2 separate regions of the Homo sapiens genome follow, and region 2 is linked to region 1. The links come from fine-mapping of genetic effects on gene expression. A gene starts in region 1. The other region holds a variant in brackets. All regions are shown on one strand. Distances are from middle to middle. Region 1 holds the start of STRN3 (striatin 3). Region 2 overlaps STRN3 (striatin 3).

Evidence for each region. PIP is the estimated chance that this variant, and not a neighbour inherited with it, causes the effect.
Region 2: its variant is the best candidate, but not a certain one, in a credible set for the expression of STRN3 in lung (TOPMed, PIP 0.85).

Annotation. Positions count from the first base shown.
Region 1 is chr14:31,022,967-31,031,301 of GRCh38, forward strand. STRN3 (striatin 3) reads right to left here and starts at 3,413. Exons shown (of 18, transcript NM_001083893.2): 1 at 2,938-3,413. The coding sequence starts at 3,219. It overlaps AP4S1 (adaptor related protein complex 4 subunit sigma 1), which reads left to right and starts at 2,683. Exons shown (of 6, transcript NM_001128126.3): 1 at 2,683-2,821. RefSeq lists enhancers at 2,362-2,461, 2,532-2,641, 3,752-3,911 and silencers at 2,631-2,812, 2,952-3,211, 3,302-3,621.
Region 2 is chr14:30,893,102-30,901,436 of GRCh38, forward strand. It overlaps STRN3 (striatin 3), which reads right to left. Exons shown (of 18, transcript NM_001083893.2): 17 at 2,561-2,647; 18 at 703-2,479. The coding sequence ends at 2,310. It also overlaps a transcript of COCH not described here. Among named protein-coding and RNA genes, the nearest start is that of COCH-AS1, 7.5 kb to the left of the region's middle. The variant T/C (reference allele first, on the strand shown) is at 3,577.

The DNA.
Region 1 (8,335 bases):
TTTTTAAGGGGGGAATCTCCTGAATTTTCCATTTTCAGGGTTTTCAAAAGCTGGTCTGGAATAGTAATTTGCAAATCCTAGTGTCTTTTCCATGACAAGATTTTAATGAATCTACTATGAAATTACAAAAAAGAAAAGTGTAGTGTAGTAATTTTTCTCTTTAACAGGCACTACTGTGAAGAAAGAATCACTTGTAGAACTCTAAAAAATATGCAGGCCTCTTATCCTCTGGAGATCTGGATTGATCTAGGGCTTGAAGAAAATGGACTGTCTGTGGAATTTTGGTAATTCATGTTATATAAAAGTTAAGAAACCACTGTCCTATGACCTTACTAACAATGCTTTACCTGAGTCTAAGGTAAGGAAGAATCAGAGACAGAAGAGCTTTAAGATGTGATCCTTTAGTTTGGTTCCAAGTTTCTAAGACAGACCTTTACTCTAAATTCTTTTTACAGAGAACAGAATCATACTGTAAAGTTCCTTTTAATATCTTTCCCAAAGCCAGGGAAAATATTATTCCCCATTAAAATTTTACATCAATATGGGGTATTCCTTAAGCTCTTCACGTTCTCTATTGAAACTATTCAATAATTAACACTTTAAAAATCTGTGTACATGACAGTGCACTGGAGACTGTACATAATAATATGTAAGTTGTCTTATTTCTAGATTGTCTTTCTTAAAAATAGGTTTAAGTTTACAGTAAAAATCCACTGATGCTTCACTACACCCTCCCACAAATATGTATTCAACACATACATTTTAAAATACGCATCTCACAAGCAATCTCAGTAGACTGAAGGCACCTAAAGCAAACTAGAAACCTTATTAAGTTAACCCAATAAAACATTTTAAATATATAACTCAAAAAAAAAAAAACCAACGCCATCATGAACATTTTATTCCAAAAGAATCAGTATGAAATAAAAAAGAGTCTAGAAACACTGTAGGACTTCTTCAAAACAAGGAAACAAACAAAAACTTAGGATGGCTAATAACAGTACTGTACCAATAGAATTGAAAGCAAGCAAGCAAGCAAAAGGAATCTACCTTAAAACACTGCTGCTGCTGTTAAGGAGACCTAGAAGGGAAAGCAAATGCTAGAGCAGGCAATAAAGGCTTCTTTAATATATAGTATAGGTTTTACTAATTTGGGCACAAGATATCTTTCTTCTCAGCTGCTTACATTAGTGAAGTTTATGGGTGAAAAATGCAATTGCTAACTTGAAGAGTGTTGAAATCCAAACTTGCATACAACAGTACAAAGGTCTAAGAAACCATAGCAGGGACTGGTGAAGTATTATTTAGTGAGCTTAGGCCTTACTGCATTTGTCAATCCAAATTTTAAAAACAAATGCCTTACTTACTTTACTCACACAGAAAATTAAGTTTGCAGTATGTAGTAGAAAGCTGTATACCAACAGAATTCTATAAATTTTAAGTATGTTAAAGCAGACTGTACACAACTTAAACCAGTTTTGACTTCAGCTTTTTTAAAGTTATGTAATTTTAAAGCCCAATATTATATCAAAACACAATTGTAAAGCACTGAAATGACTAACAAGTGTTACTTTTTTTTAAGACTTCATACAGTGTCAAAATACCCAAGTATTTTTTACTTTTGAAAAGTTTAACTTCACCCACTTTGTGGAGTCATATAAAAGTTTACTAGTTCAGAACCAAACTAAAGAGATGCATATTTGAGGACACCCTTTCTAGTTAATCCAATCCTCCTCCTTTCAGCACTACATTTGCCTAACGATTCACCATAGGCATATGACATATATGACAGCAAATACTGCTTACCCCCTAAATACACAACAGTCTGAAGAACAGGTGCAATACTATTTAGACACACGCTTTTTCCTTCTAAGCCTAAATTTGCCCTGGAAAGGTATTTAAAAATAAACACAAATACCCAAGAAAGTTAAATAACCCTTTCAAAAAGATGCAGCAATTTTGAGATCCAGGACATGAGCTGTTAACTACCAACAGCTTCCAAATGTGCAGCCTATCAAAGGTTCACATTATGAGGATCGAGTCAAGCTCAACTATGAAGGGTTCCGAGAACATCTCACTTTGCTTCTCCTGCAAGAGTAAGTAACATGATATAACTACGTTTCACTTCAAGGGAATATTAAATCTCTTCAGTCGTTTCATAAATACAGCATCGATCGTCTGGTTTGGTTTTTTTATAGATAAAGAAACGGATGGGGGAAAGGAGATCTAGTGGAGAGTACTGTAAAAAGAAAAATTCAGTGCTGAAAGCGTTGATGAGTCACTAAGTAAGGAATAACTACAGAGAATCCAAGTGAGTAAGGCAGCATCTCAGGTGAGAAAGTACTTAAAGTTGACGATGGGAAATAAAACTTCACAGGTCAGTCCCAAGTCACTGTGCACCCTAGCAGCCCAGGAAAGAAGCGTGGCTGTCAAGGGGCAAGCGCGTACCAAGTCTGAGGGAGGGGGCCAGATACGCCAAATCGGAAAGGGGGGTGGTCCGGAAAAGGGGGGTAAGATGCCTATCCTAGTCCCTCTCTTCGGGCTCTTCATCTCAAGAGGAACAAACAAGAGCAAACTCAGTGTTGAGAGGCCCCAAACCGGACTCTCCCACAGAGAGGTGCTCGGTCCCAAGCCCCGGAGGCCCGGGAAGGCCGCCTCCGGAGGAGCCCCCGCAGACGCCATACTAAAAGCCAAAATGGCTGCCCCGAGGAGGCCCGCACCGCGTAGCCAGTGAAGGTTGGGGAGCAAGCTTATGCGGGAAAGAGGGAGGGGGACTCCAGGAAAAGCCGTTGAGAGGACCATCACAACCTGAGCAGCACAGGTAGGTTCCGCTCGGCCTCCCAAGGCGCCGGCTCCGGCTGAGTGGAGTCCCCAGCCCCACCCCCCGGCCGGGAACCCAGCCGCCGCAGCTCCCGCACACCGACCCCAACGAGGTACCTGCAGTTCGGCCCGTTCCACCTCCCAGTGCGCCCGCTCCATCTCGAACCGAGCCCACTCGTGCTGGATGTAGTGCAGTATCCCCGGGATAGTGTACTGCTGCGGCCGGGACAGCTCGGGGCCTGCCGCGGGACCCGCTCCCTCGGAGGCCGGAGGACCCCCGCCGCCCGCCGCTCCGTTCCCCCCGGGCGAAAGGCCCAGGTTCCCCCCAGGTCCCTGCTGCTGCCGGGGAGGGGCCGCCATCCCCGGGCCGCCACCACCGCCTCCGGCAAGCTCGTCCATTGTGTGTGGGGCCCCGGCCGGGGCGCAGGGCGAGACGCCGACAGCTGGGGGAAGGGCCGGAGAGGGTGGCCCCGCGCTGGCTGCGGGGCGGAGGCCGGCCGGGAGAGGGGCGGGGAAGGGGTCGTTGCTGTGTGCCTGCCGTGGGTCAGAGCAGGGAGCTGCCGGCTGCCGCCATTACAATCCCTCCTCCATCTGCCCGTCTCACTCACTCACTTTAGGGGAAGGGGGGGCCTCGGCGGGAGGGGTGGGGGGAGAGTTGGGAAGGGGATAGGCGGAGGGCCGTCACTAGCGCACAGCATGCTGGGTAGCGAACGCAGCCTCACGCTTAATCGCCAAATAGAGTCCGGCCTCACCCTACGCCGGCGCACTGAGAACGCAGCCCGGGTCGCCGTTAGAGGGCGGGGAAAGAGCTCGGGCTCCGCCCCTAGGCCCGCCCTCAGACCCGATCCGGTGTCTGGCCGCAGCTACCGGACACCTGGGCTCCGACTCTGACTTTTGGAAGCGAGGCGGCCTTAGGCTTCCTGGTTATCAGTTTCCTTTTAGCAGGCCGTCCCCGGGCGCTGTTTCCTTCCCAGGGGTCTCTCACCCGTGTCCCGGCTTTCTGAGCTGGTTGTTAACCTGGCTGGTCGCTCTGGCCGACCGCATCCCGTCTCGGATTCCTGACGTTTCTTTTTCATTCTTTGAGTGTTTCAGGCAGTCCCAAGGGTGGGCCCTCTTTCCCTTCCTGTCACTCGCTCTGCCTCTGGTTTCTTAGAACCAGTCAGTTCTCTGCTGGCAAATAGCCAAGATCCTCCGGCTGTGGTTACTGATTCCTCGTCTCTGTCTTGAGCCTGGGCTTTGGTCCCATTTCTATGCGCTCGGTCGCCCGTCGTAACTTATTCCACTTTGCGTCCCCTCTTCTTTCCTTTTCTGGAATGGGTTGTGGGGGGGTTGGGAGAGGGGGAGGAGCGATTTTTTTTTTCTTGGGAGAAGAAGAGGTAGTGAATTCCTTTAGATCTTGACGATGATGGGTAGAGGGAGAGAAGTTTGAAGGAGACTGGCTAGACTAACAATTTGATACGGTAGAAATGAATGGGCTCACAAATATTGTCATCAATAGACTATTTTGATCGAAACAGAAAATAAAAGCACTGTGAGTACAACTTAAAATCCTAGATGAATGTTCTCCTGGGTCATTAAATGTTTAAGTGAATATGGCCGGGCGCGGCTGCTCAAGCCTGTAATCCCAGCACTTTGGGAAGCCGAGGTGGGCGATCACTTGAGGCCAGGAGTTCGAGACCAGCTTGGCCAACATTGTGAAACCCCATTTCTACTAAAAATACAAAAATTAGCCGGGCATGGTGGCGCACACCTGTAGTCCCAGCTCCTGGGGAGGCTGAGGCACGAGAATTGCTTGAGCCCAGGAGGCTGAGGTTGCAGAGAGCCGAGATCGCACCACTGCACTCCAGCCTGGGCGACAAAGCGAGACTCCGTGTCGGCAAAAAATTTAAAAAGTTTGAGGAATGTAACATATACATAAGAGACAAGGCTAATATTTTAAGTACAATAGTGGGTACTTTTATGTGCTTAGTTTCCTAGAAAATATCCTAATGCACTAGTGTGTTTCTAAAAATTAATATAGCTAAGAAGCATTTGTTTGAAAAATAAGACAAAAATAATTAACAACATAAGGAAATTAGGTTCAGTAATTATATTAATAGCGATGCAGGAAAATTGCATTGAAAATTTGTTACTTTTTAAAATTTTTTTTCTTTACTGCAAAAGCCAATAAAACTTGTACTATGGAGTATGCACTACCAACCAATCAGGAAGTAATTTCAAAAGAGATTAAGTAATGCATCTTATTTTATCACATCTGCTTTACTGTTATTACAGTTTAATGGAAAGCAGATTGGACCTGTTACTCATGCTGCCATGTTTTATTTCTATATGAAATGAGATCTTAGATTGCAGTACTATAATGTTAAGGACCATTTCTTCAAATTATTATTTTATTTATTTTTTTTTTTTGAGACAGGGTCTCACTCTGTTGCCTGGGCTGGAATGCAGTGGTGTGAGCTCTGCTTGTTGCAACCTGGAGCTCCCTGGCTGAGGTGGTCCTCCCACTTTAGCCTCCTGATAGCTGGGACTCCAGGTGTGCATCCACCAAGCCCAGCTAATTTTTGTATTTTTTGTAGAGACGGGGTTTTGTCATGATGCCCAGGCTAGTCTCCAACTCCTGGCTCAAGTGGTCCACCCACCTTGGCTTCACAAAGTGTTAAGATTACATATTTCTTCAAATTATTAAAGTACTATTTATCTTAGAGTTACCAACATACAACCTGTTTATTCATCCAATTCCTTTTTAGGGGGCGTCATAGCACATAAAAAGCTCAGAAAAATTATGCTGCCTCAAAGACATACACACACATACACACACACACACACACACACAGAGACATTTGTGGCCAGGTGCGGTGGCTCACACCTATAATCCCAGCACTTTGGGAGGCCGAAGCGGGCAGATCACTTGAGCTCAGGAGTTGGAGACCAGCCTGGCCAACATGGCAAAACCCCGTCTCTACCAAAAAGTACAAAAATTAGCTGGGCGTGGTGGCGCTTGCCTGTAATCCCAGCTTCTCTGGAGGCAGAGGGGGCAGTGAGCCGACATCATGCCACTACACTGTAGCCTGGGTGAAAGAGAGAGTGAGATTCCATCCCAAAAACAACAACAACAACAAAAACCATTTGTGAGAATGGTTGACCTGATGATAGCATCAAAAGAAGACTAACATGCACACTTATAACTGGTAACTTGAGCTTAAGGAAAGACTGGATTTCTTATCCTTTTTGTCTCCTCACCTACCCTCAAAACAAAAACAAAATCTCTACTTCTATTATCTACCTTATTAAGTGACACTACATCCAAACTTGAAGCCTAGCAGTCATTCTACTACCTTTCAGTCAGCCCCCACAAACCAATTTCATTCTCAGTAATATCTTTCCTGTGGATTCTATTGTCTCTCTTTATACTTTAGTTTAAACCTTCCCACCTCCATTCTACCCCCACTTTGCACTATCACTGCTGCCTGATTGATCTTCCTAAAACAAAGGTATGATTCTGTCATTCCTCTGTTTAACATAGTTTAGTGATTTCTAAATTTAGTATAAAGCCCAAATTTTAACATAAGCATATAAATTGATCTAGATCCATCCTACAGTCTAATCTACCATAACACTATCATGCCACCTCATTCTTCTCTTCAGCCAAACTGCCACTGTTTTTGGTTCCTCAAATGTATAATGCTATTTCATTCCACAGTAATTTAACACATGCTGTGCCCCATTGCCTATCTTCAAAACTCAGCTCAGATCAGGCACAGTGGCTCATGCCTGTAATCCCAACACTTTCGGAGACAGAGGTGAGAGGATGGCTTAAGCCTAGGAATTCGAGACCAACCTGGGCAACATGGCAAAACCCTGTCCCTACCAAAAATACAAAAATTAGCCAGAGTGGCCACGTGAGTCTGTAGTCCCAGCTACTCTGGAGGCTGAGATGGGAGGATCACCTGAGCCCAGGAGGTCCAGGCTGCAGTGAGCCATAATTGCATCATTATGCCACTGCACTCCAGTCTGGGCAACAGAGCAAAACCCTGTCTTAAGACAAACAAAACCCTTCCCCCACAAAAAAAAAAAAGAAAATACTCAGCTCAAGCATTATTTTGTCCAAGAAGCCTCCATATCCCTGAATTCTTTTGACTCACTATTCTATTGTAGTAGCCTCCCTCCCATGCTTATCTCTTTTTTTCTTTAATCTTTTTTTTTTTCTTTTTTGAGACTGGATCTCACTCTGTCACCCAGGCTGGAGTGCAGTGGCACAATCTTGGCTCACTCCAGCTTCAGCCTCCCCAGCTCAAGCGATCCTCCCACCTCAGCCTCCTAAGTAGCTGGGATGGGACCACAGGCATGTGCCACCATGCCCAGCAAATATTTTTGTATTTTTTGTAGAGATGGGTTTTCGCCATGTTGCACAGGCTGGTCTTGAACTCCTAGCAAAGTGCTGGGGTTACAGGTGTGAGCCACTGCACAGGGCCTTATCTAATAGTTTTTACACTATATTTACACCATCTGTGTACTGATCAGTAACACTGATACTAAACACTCCAAAAGCAATACTTACACATAGTGAGTACTCAATTTTTGCTTTATTCCTTTCTATTTTTTGTACAGAGGGAATCTCACTATGTTGCCCAGGCTGATCTTAAACTCCTGGGCTCAATCTATCCTCCCAGCTCAACCTCCTGAGTAGCTAAGACTACCTGTACACAACATCACTCCAGGCTATTTTTTGTTTTTAATTTTTTGTAGAGATGGGAGTCTCACTGTATTGCCAGGGTTGATCTCTAACTCCTGGCCTCAAGCAGTCCTCCTTCCTTGGCGTCCCAAAGTGGTAAGATTACAGGCATAAGCCACTGAGCCCAGCCCGTTTTTTTTATTTTTTAAGAAGTACTGATTGGCTACGATTTTTCAGGTGCTCTACTGCTCCCTGCTGATCCACTGTGACCCAGACACGTAATCTCTGCCTTCACAGAGTTTCTAGTCTAATTTTAGGCAAATACTTAGCACCAACCACTCTGGCTTCCTCAATATTTTGTCCTGATCCGTCTTGAAACTACCTTTCTTGAAACTTCAAGTGTGCTGCCTATTTAAAGAATTCCAACGGAATGTGACTACGTTCATTTTAATCATGGTTTTATAAATATCAGTAATGCAATTGATATGGTTTGGCTCTGTGTTCCGACCCAAATCTCATCTCCAATTGTAATCCCCACGTGTCAAGGGAGGGAGGTTATTGGATCATGGGGACGGTTTCCCCCATGCTGTTCTCGTGATAGTGAGTTCTCAGGAGATCTGATGGTTTTATAAAGGGCTCTTCTCCCTTCAATTTCTCCTGTCTCTCCTGCCCTTCATGTAAGATGTACTTGCTTCCCCTTCTGCCATGATTGTAATTTTCCTGAGGCCTCCCCAGCCATGCAGAACTGTGAGTCCATTAAACCTCTTTCCTTTATAAATTACCCAGTCTCAGGAAAGTTCTTTGTAGCAGTATGAAAACGGACTAATACAGCAGTCTTTGACT
Region 2 (8,335 bases), 130 kb before region 1:
TGCCATTGAAATGGCAAAAACCACAATTACAAACGGCAAAAACCACAATTTTTTTTTTTTTTTTTTTTTTTTGAGACGGAGTCTCTGTCACCCAGGCTGGAGTGCAGTGGCGTGATCTCAGCTCACTGCAAGCTCCGCCTCCCGGACTCACACCTCAGCCTCAGCCTCCCGAGTAGCTGGGACCATAGGCACCCGCCACCACGCCCGGCTAATTTTGTGTGTGTGTGTTTTTAGTAGAGACGGGGTTTCATCGTGTTAGCCAGGATGGTCTTGATCTCCTGACCTCATGATCCACCCACCTCGGCCTCCCAAAGTGCTGGGATTATAGGCCTGAGCCACCGCGCCCGGCCAAAAACCGCAATTACTTTTGCACCAACTAACCTAAATATTCAATGTAGTTTATTCCTTGCTGAATTTTTTTGTGGGAACAGGTATGGCAAATAGAACAACACTGCCATTAATTGAAATTCAGATTTAATAATGTAACAGGATGTCTAAGCAAATTACTTAAAACTGCACCTGTGCATTTCTGGGGGTTATTTTGAATTGCATAATTTAATGCAAGACTTTTTCTTAATCTTCAAGTGGGGTGAAATACTTAGACATTATTAATAGTGTTAGTGATCTACTCTTATTAGAATATCAATAAGTAGGACAAAGTTTGAAAGAACAGCATAAAAATGAAGGACTCACTAAGAAATCTCCATTTCCTAGTTTAATTATGGAGAATAAAGTATTGCACTTTATTATTCAACACAAAATGATGTAGCCAACAGTAACATACAGGTACACAATTTAATATTTATTATATGCATTTTATATACATTATTTTTCAACAGCTGTATGTTTGCTATGTGGTACAATCTTAAAAATTTGCTGATTCATAGTTTGTAAAACAAAAACCTTACAAAACTCATCAAAACTCGCAAACTGATCAGAAAAGTTTCTCGGAAGACTAGAAAAAATACTTTATTGTCTTAATCATGCATTACACAAACAAAATCTTTAGTTACACCATAAAATTAAGCACATCTAAAAAAATAAAACAGGGATAACTAGTCAAAACACAGCAGATTTCTGTATCCTGATTCAACTATTTTTGTATCCTATTTGTAATGCAAATAAAACTTTACTCCAAATATTTTTAAACAAGTTAGTTTTGTTTGGAATCATGGTAAACCAAGATATATATCTTAGGGGGAACCACCTTGGTTTGTAATTTAAACTATAAAATACTCCATTTTTAGTCTATTTTAGACTATTCAAAGAGTTCCAAAATAGATATACAGGTTCCTTTAGCACATTAATAAAAGGATATAAAGACCAACAAAAAGTGAAATAAATAATAGGCCATTAGCAAGATGGATAATCCTTGATAAATAAACTTGTAAATACAGTAAGATGTACAAAATATCACATAGTGATAGGATGCCAAGATTAGTTTTTTTCTTTAAGAGTTCATTTGGAGTACTAAACCCCACTGTTTCATTTTAATACACTTAATAGTCCTTGGTTTATGAAGACATTTATGTGATGATGAAAGTTATTTAGCATCTTTATGGAAGGACTTAGCTGAGCTGTATTAGGCAAAAGAAGGAAAGAAAGTGGTTACAGGGCAACGGGTCAGTGAGATCTCTGTGTTTTAGGGTTGTATAATGCAGAAAAACTTCAATACAATCTTGAGCACTGTTGTGACAGGCTAAATATATAAAAAGACTTATAAAAACTAGAATTTTATCCAAACATTTTGTGCAACTAATGCTAAAATATTTTAAGTTAAATTTTCTTTTTCTTTTTTTTTTTTTTTAAAGCAAAATAAGTTTAAAAGGGAATCTGTGGCATTCAACCGATAAACAGAAGATCACTAAGAGATGAAAAAAAGCTACTCTTGGAGCTCACTTCCCCCAACAAGAGCACCACATTCCTAACCCCTAAGGCAGCACACAGAGTCCAAAAAAAAAAAAAAAAAAAAAAAAAAGAAGAAGAAGAAGAGAAAAAAAAAAACTTTTTTGAAAGATCAGACTCCACATTGGCTTAAAGACACCTAAAAACAGATATACGCTCAGTTCACATCCAGTACAGGCCACAAATACTGGAGTCCTTTTTTCTTTGTCCCACAAAATACAGTAATTACAGTTAACTTAATGAGCTTGACATTAAGATGTGATTTCCACCAATTTGTGCCTGCCCCAGATAGCCTTCACCAGGCAGATCACATGTAGTGTCATATCAGTAACCTTTCTGATGGCAGTGATGCAGACCCTCTTTCTGTCCAAGCAAATCTTGTTACGATGCAAGTTTTTGTTGATTCATACAAATACTTTGGCAAGAGCATCAGCTCCTGCACTAGCTATATATGCTTTTGACGAGTGGAAAGCAACATCATAAATTGATTCATCCAATTTCTTTCTGTGAGCTGTTATTTCTTGCACACATGTCTTGCTGTCTAAATTCCATAATCTGATGGAACAGTCATGGCCTGTAAAAGAACAAATAAAATTTGTTACTGAGTAACAATCTTTTATAAAGTTTGTGGGCAGTACAGGACTTTAAGACTTACTTCCAGACATCAAATAGATTCCATTAGGATCTACTGCTAGACTTGTAACAGCATCCAAGTGAGCTACCATAGAATGGATCATTTTACCTAAACAAAACATAACAGAGAACTGATTAAGTTTTCACAAATACTAACTCGAGACAACAGAAACTACAATATAGCATCAACATAAAACAATCATTATAGCAACTTTTTTATTGTGGTAAAATATACACAACATAAAATTTACCACTGTAAACATCTGAGTACACAATCCTGTGTCTTTTAGAACATTCACAATGTTACACAACCATCACCATTCTCTAGAGTTCCGAACATTTTCATCACTGGAAAAGGAAACCCCATACCCAATTAAGCAGTCACTCCTATTTGCCCCTCCAACCCCTGACCACTAATCGACTCTTTCTATAGACTGGCCTATTCTGGATACTTCGTATAAGTGAACTCATACAATACGTGGCTTTTTGTGTCTGGCTTCTTTCACTTAATATAATGTTTTAAGGGTACATCCACCACTACGGTAATGTTTTCAAGAGAATTTTAATTCAAATGCATAACTTTCTCTAATAATTACTCCTAAAAAAGACATCTGTGTAACATGTATCTGACAATATCTGATAGACACTGTAAAGCAATGACAATAGGATTGCATCAAAGGCTCAAGATCGTGTAAACTGGAATTAAATAAGCCAAGTGTGGTGAGGTGTGCCTGTAGTTCCAAGCTACTCAGGAGGCTGAGGTTGTGGAATCACTTGAACCCAGGAGTTCAAGGCTGCAGTGCACTATGACTGTGCCTGTGAGTGGCCACTGTACTCTAGCTAGCCTGGGCAACATAGTGAAATGCTGTCAAGAAAGGAAAGGCAAGGAAAATGGGAAGGAAAGAGAAAAGAGAAGAAAGAAAAGAAAGGGAAGGGGAGGGGAGGGGAGGGGAGGGAAGAAGGAAGGAAAAGTGTCAGTGAAAGACCTTAAGACTATTTTATATACTGGGCTAACAATAAATAAATCACCAGAAAATA[T/C]GTTTCTACCTAAACATTCCATTATCAAGTTCAGTTCACTTATCCTTTGAAATATAATCATTTTACATACTCTAAAAAAGAAAGGAGTAAACAAATTACTCTAGATTTCCCCAGATATTAACAAAAACACTGCTCTGGAAAATGTGACTTAATGAGTATCTTCAGTGAAGATTTGGCAAGCAAATGGAATTCAACAGCAAGTAGAATTTAAAAGACAAGTTGTGAACACAAAGTTGTATTGCACAAATACTTTGGGGCAAGGGCATCCTGCAATGGTAATATATGCTTTGGATGGATAGAAAGCATTATAAACTGATTCACTAGGCAGGCAATAAAATATAAATACTGATACTTTTATAAGTTACTCTCCTTTCACTCAGCAATGAGTCTTTATTACTCAAATGCCTGGGATGTCCCTAATGAAAGATAGAGGCTTTTTCCAAAATTCTAGTTATAATCATTAGCCATGCCTCTGGTCCCATGATGATACTCTACACTAGGATATGAAAGAGGTCTAGTTTTGTTATTTGTGATGGGGCTATAGCTGTTGACCTGAATACAAAACCACAACATAATAAAATGTGTAAAAATACACTCCAAAAAACCTATAAAAAGTAATATAGTAGGCCAGCTGTGGGGGATCATGCCTGTAATCCCAGCACTTTGGGAGGCTGAAGCGGGCAGATCACCTGAGGGCAGGAGTTCAAGACCAGCCTGGCCAACATGGGGAAACCTTGCCTCTACTAAAAATACAAAAATTAGCTGGGTGTGGTGGTTAGCACCTGTAATCCCAGCTACTAGGGAGGCTGAGACAGGAGAATCGCTTGAACCCGGGAGGTGGAGGCTGCAGTGAGCTGAGATCGTGCCACTGCACTTCAGCCTGGGTGACAGAGTGAGACTCCGTCTCAAAAAAGAAGAAAAGTCCTATCACTTTCCAGCACTATTAAACACTTATCAGTTGAAGACAAAATTTAAAAAAATTAAAGTCAAAAATTTAAGACAAAATTAAAGTCTCTCATTTCAAACCACAACTCTCATTAATACTAAGAGTAATAAACAAAATAGTCTTAGAAATTCTACTCTGCTAGCCCAAAGAACAGAAAAGTCTTCAACAAACTATCTTCAATTGTTTAGTTCAACATAATTTATCTTCCAGTTCTAGAATCCACTCCTCTCAAAATTCCTATAAAAGACCACAGTGTATAAAATGGTTGGCCTCCATGACAATACTTTCAAAATATTAGGGGTTAAATACCAGGTATCATTAGCTTTCCTTATGTTAAATCTGTGATGGTAAGTTTTATTTTTAAAATTTATTTTATTTGTATTTTTGAGACAGGGCCTTGCTCTGTCACTCAGGCCAGAGTACAGTGGCACCATCATGGCTCACTGCAACCTTATTCCTGGGCTCAAGCAACCCTCTCACTTAACTGGTACTAGAGGCACACGACACCATGCCTGGCTAATTTTTAAATTTTTTGTAGAGACAGAATCCCGTATTGTTGCCTAGGCTGGTCTCAAACTCCTGGTGTCAAGCGATTCTCCTGCCTCAGTCTCTCAAAGTGCTGGGTTTACAGGCATGACCCATCACACCTAGCCTTGATGGTAAGTTTCAATTCACAGATCTAGTTCAAACTTCTCTCTTGAGAATGATCCTCTATCTCCTAAGTTTAACATCTCTAAACCAAAAGACTTTTTTCCAATACAAGAGCTACACATTTCTTTAAGGATGCTATAATTTTCCAAGTTTAACTCCAGCTCTCCAGCCTGTGCACTAAACTAACCCTCACCCTGATTATCTTAAGTCAATTGAGAGTTAACCCTTCTTCTCCACAGAGTCACAAAAATCACTTCAAAATGTGAGTAATCCCTTCAGATGGACCATGAATAGAGAACACAATGCTGGACCAAGTTGTATGTTGGGCTTTCACTGGTGACCACATAAATCACAAAGCTTCTGACCCCTTCCAGTAACGAGGACCTCTCCTTCACTAACATATACCTGCAGCTTCTCACATCTAACCAATTTCATTTTGGCCTCGTGCTTCTGCTAATACTCTACCAAAACTAATCCTAATTTTTTCCTCTTATGACTAAGGAAATAAAGGCTGGACAGATGCCACTGCACATGCCCATTCTCCCCTCCCTGGCACCTTAAGCCCTTTTACTGGCTAACACTGTGGGCCTCTATTAAATGGAGAGAAAATAAAGATGTCAAATGTAAACTACGGAAACAAACTGTGTGAGTTTAAATACTGCACAAGTCACTTAACTTCTTTAAGCCCTTCAACCTCATGTGTAAAATGGGGATAATAATAGTACTATATCTACCTTACAGAGTTATTAGAAAAGCAAATGAGTTAGAACAATGTCTCACACAGAATAGACAATATACCACTAGTCTGTAGCTCCAAGAGGACAGGACATTTTATTCTGTTCACCAAGCTTCAAGAACTGTGCCAAGAATATGGCAGATAGTCTAGACATTTTGCTGAATGAATGAGTCCACAGCTGATACAAGATCTTCCTCCCACTCCTCCACATCCCTCATTCATACTATAAGGTTCTTCCAGAATCACTCACTACCTAAGTCTTTCAGACACAGTATAGGAAACTCAAATTTGTAACTCTACCAAAATTTTAGAAACCATGGGTCCTGAAGATCTCTCTGAAATAAATAGTAGAAATTGAAAACTTTAAATCCTTTAAAGTCAAGAATCTATCATATAGTGCAAAATGTGACTTGATTAGTTTTTCTAAACCAATTTTGCAAGCCCTGTTGTTCAAATATTTTTAGTGGTTCCTACACATACAGCATAGATAAAAATTCAATATTCTTAACCTGGTTCTAAAAGTCCTCCTCAATAGATTCTATTTTCCTTCCCCAAACTTTGTCTTTGGCTTTGTCTATAAGAAACTTCTGTTCCTGAGAAAGTTTCCACCACTGCACCTCTGCTCAAAATATCCCCATACCTGTAACTTCCTACTACCACTTCCTTCACTTAAAAACCAACCAACCCCAAACACCTTTCCATTCCTAAGGCAAAGCTTCATCTTGCACATACCCCCCCCACCCCCTCTTATTTCCTCTAGACAACAAGCCCACAGAAATCAGGAACCATATCTTATACATGATAGTATCCAGTGCAGTATAGTACAAAATGCTGAATACATTTTTATTAAAATGGTTTACTCATTTAAATAATTATTGAACCTATTCATAGCATAAAGTTCTATCATGTTTCAGATATAAAAGCTCAATAAATTTAATACTCATTTTATAAAGTAATACTCTATTAAAAACAACTTAGCTAACCGGAAACAGCAGTTACGGGGACAATCTATTTTACCACAATTAAATGAGTTTTTAAAGAACTTCTCTGAAAACACCATATCCAGGCCGGGCGCAGTGGCTCACACCTATAATCCCAGCACTTTGGGAGGCCAAGGTGGGCGGATCACCTGAGGTCAGGAGTTCAAGACCAGCCTGGCCAACATGCTGAAAGCCTGTCTCTACTAAAAATATAAAAAATTAGACAGGCGTGGTAGCAGACGCCTATAATCCCAGCTACTCAGGAGGGTGAGCCGGGAGAATCACTTGAACCCAGGAGGCAGAGGTTGCAGTGAGCCGTGATCGTGCCACTGCACTCCAACCTGGGCAATAAGAATGAAACTCCATCTCAAAAAAAAAAAAAAAACCACACCAAAAAAACATACATCTGAAGACAACTCATAGTTTCATGTAACTCAACGGGGGGTGTGGGGCGGGGGGGGGCGGTGTGTGTGTGTGTTCAGGCACAGTGGCTTACGCCTGTAATCCCAGAACTTTGGGAGACTGAGGCGGGTAGATCACTTGAGCCCAGGAGTTCAAGACCAGCCTGGCCAACTTGGTGAAAATACAAAAATTAGCTGGACATGGTGGCACACACCTGTAGTCCCACCCTGTAGTCCCACCCAGCTATGTGGGAGGCTGAGGCACCAGAATCAATTGAACCCAAGAGGCGGAGGTTACAGTGAGCTGAGATGGTGCCACTGCACTATAGCTCTGGGCAACAGAGCAAGACTGGCTCAAAAAAAAAAAAAAAGGATTTTTTTTTCTATTATTTGGAGCCTACTGCTTCAATTATCTTCATACTACAGGTAAGGTACTAGTTAACAGAAATAATAAATAGGTGAAATTTGGAAACAATTTGAAAGACTATATGCTGCTTATTTGATATTGAGTAAGCTTTTACTGACCACTTTCTTGATTTCTGCTAATAAAATAGCTTTTCAGATGCTCACCTTTTGCTTTTAATATAACTACTAAAATTCCTGAACTTTCCCATATAACTGTAAATCTTCAATAATTAATAAACAGGAATCTTTTTAGAAACACAAAGGAAATTAACCTCTTTGCTCTTGCAGCAGAGAAAAACATTATCGGTTTCATAAAAATAGTTCAAAGGATTGATTTGATGAAGTGTTAAATTGGGAACACTGGCCAGGAGCAGTGGCTCATGCCTGTAATCCCAGCATTTTGGGAGGCTGACATGGGAGGACTACTTGAGCCCAGGAGTTTAAGACCAGCCTGGGCAACACAGTGAGACCCTGTCTCTATAAAAAAAAAAAAAAATTTAAATATTTTTTTTAAAAAGAACATCCACTTGAATCTTATGTCCTGTGCACAATGTAGACCTGTAAATATTCACTTTGTCTGCAATTTGTTAAAAAGAATCTGTCCATGAAAGTAATGTTTGAACAAAAGGGTCTCATTGTT